Homo sapiens: one gene and its partner. The protein of the gene in region 2 purifies or fractionates together with the protein of the main gene of each other region. This does not show direct contact. Each region holds a gene or a part of one and is shown on either strand. Other genes may lie near its edges. The genes, in order: SLC16A10 and KEL.

Region 1 (3,826 bases), on a different chromosome or scaffold from region 2:
CTAAAAGCTTATAATAAGGACATGAAAGGGTAGTATGGTCAAAATGTAGATTTTTTTTCCTGCAAAAGAACCATCCACAGGCAAATTATCTAAGTCCCCTGAATATGAAATATGACACTATTAGAAGTGGTAAGGTGCAACTGCATGTATGACAAAGTAAGTTGCTGAATGTCTTCACAATCAAAAGCACTAACTTTTAAAGGCCTCAAGTACTAAAGCATAATTTTAGGGATAGAGGAAAGTGTTCTTGTTTTTGTAAATGAGTATGGGTCATGGCATGACTTTGGTTTTATTTTGGGTCCTCAAACTGAGAGCTTTCTTATGATAATCTGTATATAAATAGCAAAAAAAAACAATGGGAATGTTCATAGGATAAATAATATGAGTGCAAATTTTTGCCAGAAAGTTCTGGAAATGTAGGACTTGGTTCTTTTTATAAGTGCTTTTAACCTTTTCAGACTCATTAATTTCATAAACCAATTTAAGCAATTATTTCTATCAGCTACAGATATTTTCTTCACAAATATAAAGGGTTTTGCTCCCCTCCCCATCCTCCAGCCTCCACCAATTTGTGCCTGTAACTGCCACTTGATAGCTGCTCAGTAAGACTTTAAATATCAGGTTCTAGTGCCAACAAATCCAGAAGTCAGAAAAATTCTAAGTTACAATCGCCAGAATATCTTTCATGCATTCTATTTTACTTTATTGTTACAGTTTAAACAAATTCAGAAACGTGGGGTGTTTCTGGCTACTTGAGTAAAACGCACTGCAAACGCAAAGGGAACAACGCTGTAAACTTAAATGATTTCTGAACAGCTCAGGATCCTCCTGGAGGGGATCCTTTTCATCTCACATATTGATTCTGAACACTATGTTAGCACCTGCTCCCAGAAGGTCCCTTGACACTGGAGCAAGTCAGAATATCTTAATATCATAGCTTATTTAACAGCAGGAAAGCAACTTTAACATAGACTTGAGGTTTAGGTAGATCTGGTATTATCTAGAACCCAGGCTTAAATTTTGCAAAAAGTTTCCAAAGAGCATAAGAAAGTAAAACAGAGGTACCAGAACTGAAGACATCATTAACAAACAAAATATTTCCACTCCTAACCAAACTGCAACCCTTTCAGTATAGCCTGAGGTATTTTTAAACATTTGTACAAGCTAAAGATCATTCACAGTTTCCAAAGCTGCTTTTTACTGAGATAGCTTCAAATTTTCACAATATGTGACTTTCAGACGTTTTCATATACCAGAGTCTCTGCCCTCAGACTCATGGAAACATCAGAGATATTTAGTGGCAGAAAATGGTTCTTCTAGTGATAAGGGTTCTATTTCCCAATTATTGTGCTATTCCTAGGATGTGATTAAAAAAATATGAAATTTGCAATTTGTATAAAAGGAAAGGAAACTTGCTTAAAATTCAAAAAGCAAGTCCAGTCTGGTGGAGGTATGTAAGATATTAAATAATAGAGTCAGATTCTTTCTTGAACATTCCAGATGAACTTGACAGCAGAGAGTTCTGGTTTTCCAACATTTTCTCCATCTTTTCTTTTCCAGTGGTTTTACTGATCTCTCTTTGCTTCTTACTATGGATCCACGGGATAAAACAAAGCACAGCACCTCCAATAAGGGGAGGGACTCCAGCGAGGTAGAATGCCACATCATAGGAGCCCAGTTTGTCACGAAGTAACCCTGAGAAGGGAAAAAGCTGTCACCAAGGGAGAACAAGTGTGGCTCTGTAGGGGGTCTAGATCAGCCACAGGACTGATTCAGACATCTCAGACATCAGACTTTTTTTTTTTTTTAGGAAACAGATCTGAAATATAAACCCTTTTTGATAGGAAGAAAAAGATCTCATATCTTTAACGTTGTCATAAAGTACAGTCCTCTGGATTTTCATACCAAGACATTACTTGAAAAGATAGAAAGGTAGACGTTTTTTTTTTTTTGAGACAGGGTCTCACTGTGTCACCCAGGCTGGAGTGCGGTAGCATAATCATGGCTCATGCAGGCCTTGACTTCCCAAGCTCAATTGATCCTCCCAGCTCAGCCTCTTGAGTAGCTGGGACTACAGGTGCATGCTACCATGCCTGGCTAATTTTTATATTTTTTGTAGAGATGGGGTTTTGTCACATTACCCAGGCTGGTCTCAAGCTCCTAGGCTAAAGCAATCCTCCCACCTCAGCCTCCCAAAATGCTGAGATTACAGGCATGAGCCACCATGCCCAGCTTTCAAACTACTCTTTGGTGTATTTGTTTTTTATGAAATAACATGAAAACTATTTAACATCATAATTCAAAATTAAGAAAAATTTTAAATTTAATAATTTGGATGAAAGTTAGGTTGTTAAATACATTTTGGAAATAGACTAAGGTTTATAAGTACCTGGAAGAAAATGTAAGTATATAAGAATTATTAATGGCATTCTATATTCGGGTTCTGCTTCTGAAAACTTTTACGGTACTCAACATTTCTAATTTCTCTAACAAATTCCAGGACTCATGGTTTTAAAAGTTATCTTAGTGTTTTTAAACTCTTATAACTTATACTATAAAACCTAAGTTATCTAAAATGTCCAGGGAATATACTGTACTAAATATCTATCTGACATTGTTAAATAAATAGCTGACCATTTGTCCAATTAAGTACCAACACATAAAAATGTGTACATCCATTCTGCATATATAAAATAGACAATATCTGTAAATGCACAAGTTTTCTATCTTTGGAATCAGACCATTCCTGAACTCTTCCTCCTTATGAACACTCATGATTATGTTCTGCTGTAATACTATGATGCCCTCAGAGCCTCCTGGTGAGCCAGCAGCTTTCTGCTGCCAGTTGCTGTGTGGTGGTGTTCTGCCTGCTTTAGAAGTTTCCTGTTACCTCCCTTATTCTTGCTCTGTTAACTGTCACTTCTGGTAGCAAAACTATTTACTACTAGAGTGCTGCTTATATAAAATCTGCTGTGGACTTAGAAACTATAAAACTAAGCTTGTAGGCTATAGAAAGAAGAGTGAATACTATATTACCTGCGGGAGAGAAGAAGGAATGGAGGGTTCTCCTATAAGGAGACCATGACCTTTTGAACTTAAACTGGATTTGGTCTGCTCAGTAGTAACTCTGCTTGCTTGATTCATGACTAGGAATACAGTTCAGGGTATGAGAATGAATTGAGCTAAACCTTCACTGAGCACCTCATGTGCCAAACACAGATGACAGTACACACATTTAAATTTTATCATATTTATACTGAATCTTCTAATACTAATTGACACAGGCACCCAAGTAATACTGAACATAGGACATCTTTATAATATCATTCAGAGAATTTCTAGAGGTGGAATTCACATGAAATAGAATTAACCATTTGAAAGTGAACAATTCAGTGGCATTTAGCACATACACAATGTTTTGCACCCACTGCTTCTATTTAGTTCCAAAATATTTTCATCATGCCAAAAGGACACTTCATTCCAATTAAGTAGTTACTTCCCAATCCCTTTCTCTCCAGCCCCTGGCAGTCACCAGTTTTCTATCTGTATGAATTTACCTATTTTGGATATTTCACATGAAATAAATCATACGATATATGACCTTTTATTTTGAGACAGGGTCTCACTCTGTCACCCAGGCTGGAGTGCAGTGGTGCTATCACGGCTCTGCAGCCTTGATCTCCCAGGCGCAATAGATCCTCTCGCCTCCGCCTCTGGAGTAGGTGGGACTACACTAATATTAGTATGTGTCACCATGCCAGGCTAATTTTTTTTATTTTTAGTAGAGACAAGGTCTTGCTATGTTACCCAAGCTAGTCTGGAACTC
Region 2 (2,701 bases):
TTCAGGCACAGGTGAGCTTCCTGGAGGGCATGGTTGTCACAGGCGAGGCAGCCCCCAGGCAGTACTGTTGAAAATGGGACAAGAGAACATACAGCAAGAGAACATAGGGTTGGTGCTGCCTAGGTGAGGATGTGGGTGGTACCACAGACTGAATCAGCTCCCAGGAGCATGGCAAAGTTCCCAGGACTGCCCCACCTCAAACCCTCAAATAACCTCCCTTTCCCCTCCAGGCCTCCCTTGTGGTCTTCCCTTAGGTTCCCTATTATCCCACCTCCCAGTGGCCCCTGTTACCCACAGAGCTGGTAGAAGATGTGCAACAGCTCGTGGGCCATGATGCTGCCAGCAGCGCCAAAGTTCACGGCTCTAGGGAGACAAGGGCTTATTTGACCCCCAGAATCTCTCAGCATTTGTGACCCCAATTCTCCAACCGTAAGTCCCATCCATCATAACACCTGTCGGCCCCTCTTGGGAAACTCCCTACCTACCCTTACAGAGTGACCCATACCTGGGATAGCCAGGGTGGAAGAATGGGGGTTGGAGGAGTCCAGCTGGAAAGACTACCACATGGTCAGATACCGAATAGTAAGCATTGACGTCCCAAGGGGACACCTTCCACCTGTGGGAAGAGGACATGTGAACTCCAGCCCCCACCACGTATTGCCCTGCCACCCTGAGACCTACACAGTCCCTCCCAACTACCATTACTGTTCATGCTGCCTGCCCTGAGCCCTGGCTTCCTTTCCTGTGAATCATGGATGGGTCTCTCTGGGATGGAGTGCCTGTGTCTCCCCTGCTGTCATACCTGTGTTGGGGGTGAGGCTGCAAGAAGCTCTGGACAATTCTAGCTCGGAGGGACCGGACACAGCTCAGGACAGACTGCAGGAAGCTCGATCCAAGCTGTATCTGGGGAAGAGGCAGGAGGTGACTTGGGCACACAGAGACTTCTATAGATGCACGCTGACAAACACCAATGGGACCATTTGACCCCAAACAGGCAAGCCCTGACAGGCAGGCATCCAGGGATTAGGAGAGAGCAGCCCAATGGCATCACTACACAGCACACCCAGGCTTTACACATATCAGCACACAGATGAACACGCCCAGACAAGTCACAGGATGCATGCATGTGTGTTGGCACATGCGTTGGGACCTGAAAAGATTCTGTTCTTCTGCCAGCAAGACGTACAGTGTGGATATTTCCCCATCAACCCCAGCCAGCACCAGAGTAAGGACAGAGCTAAGTCACCCAGGGAAAACTGATTGTCCAACAAAGACTTAGGAGGGTCAGAGAAGTGACGAGAAGTCAAGGACTGAAAAGGAGCTGGAAAACACAGGGACCCACATCGTTGTATTCTTGTCGGGCCAGCTCTGGCTTCAGGGCCCATTCTGAAGCCCCCATCTCCACCTGCAGTTGAGCAACCTGGAGAGAGACACAGAAGAGGCTAGGAATACTCTCCGAGTCTACCAGAGGAAATTTCTCCCACTCGTTGCCCTGTCCCAGCCTCTCACATTGTTGCCAGTGTGAGTATACAGCCCAGTGGCTTCCCTACTTAGCATGTGCCTGGGGGGGCCTTTGGCATTTGCTTCCAATCCCCATCTCGCTTGTTCCAATACTCCATTCCCTGCACAGGCTCCCACACCAGCCAGGACGCCTGGCCTGACCTTGTCCTGGGCCATGTTCTGGGTCTCCTCATTCATCCAGGGAAGGTTTCTGAGGCGAGTGATGAGGGCATCCCGGATCGCAGTGAATAATTTCATGGCCTGTGGGAGTGAGGTCCAGGGACAGGGGGACAGGATCAGGAGAGGCCTCAGCCTGGCCCTGCCCACAGCTTCTGACCCTTGGAAAAGGGCTTGGCCCCAAGGAGCTGCCTGGGCTGGAGCTGCTGCTAGAGGAGCAGCTCAACTAAAGCAACTAAAGGATCTGTGGAGAAAGGAAGGCAGTGCCAAGCCCACAAAGGGAAGGTGGGGCCTGGCCATCCGTGAGGGCCATCAGGGAGATATAGTTCCTTTCCATGGGGAAATAGCCTGACACAGGAGAAAGACAGTGTCCTCACTCCTGGGGGCAGGAACACCTCTCAGAAATCAGAGGGAGGAGAGGGCTGTCATTTTCTCCTCTGGCTCAGGGCTCTTGTTCTCACACTGTCTTTTTTAAACCGTCCACTCCCTCTCCTCATCCTCCTGAGCTCTTCAGCTTCCCAGCAAGTCCCCCACAAGTCTCCCTGCCTTCACAACGTGAGTGTGTACTCACTGCTTCCCCAGCCACCTGCCATCTCATGTAAATCCTTTCCTGGAGGAAAATGAAAGGCAATATCGAGAGCCTGGGCTCTGGCATCAGAATGCCTGAGTTCAAACCCTGTCTCTGCTTTTTGGTAACTGTGTGACTTTGGGCAAGTCACTTAACCTCTCTTTGCTTCAGTTCCCTCTTGTATAAAATCAGGATCATAATAGGAACTAAATGACGTAGTTCATGCAAAGTTCTTGAAGGAGTCCCAGGCATGTGGTAGGTACTCAGAAAGTATTCAGTGGTGATTTATTTGATTTATTTGCCCTCTTCAAGATTATGTCATCTGTTCTGATGTCACGTCATGTGTTGTTAAAAAAATCTTAGCTACAACAGGGAGGAGACTTAGAGATGATAGTGTTCAATTTTCCTTTTTTTTTTTTGGAGATGGAGTTTCACTCTTGTCACCCAGGCTAGAGT

The links.
Region 1: the proteins of KEL (region 2) and SLC16A10 purify together in Homo sapiens (affinity purification with mass spectrometry; one large-scale study listed by BioGRID and IntAct). This does not show direct contact.

What each region holds. Positions count from the first base shown.
Region 1 is NC_000006.12:111,219,872-111,223,697, reverse strand, and holds part of SLC16A10 (monocarboxylate transporter 10), read right to left. Parts: intron 1,696-3,826; coding exon 1,463-1,695; 3' UTR 1-1,462. UniProt on the Homo sapiens protein: Sodium- and proton-independent thyroid hormones and aromatic acids transporter.
Region 2 is NC_000007.14:142,942,981-142,945,681, forward strand, and holds part of KEL (kell blood group glycoprotein), read right to left. Parts: intron 1,762-2,701; coding exon 1,663-1,761; intron 1,421-1,662; coding exon 1,343-1,420; intron 904-1,342; coding exon 803-903; intron 617-802; coding exon 506-616; intron 364-505; coding exon 296-363; intron 65-295; coding exon 1-64. UniProt on the Homo sapiens protein: Zinc endopeptidase with endothelin-3-converting enzyme activity. Cleaves EDN1, EDN2 and EDN3, with a marked preference for EDN3.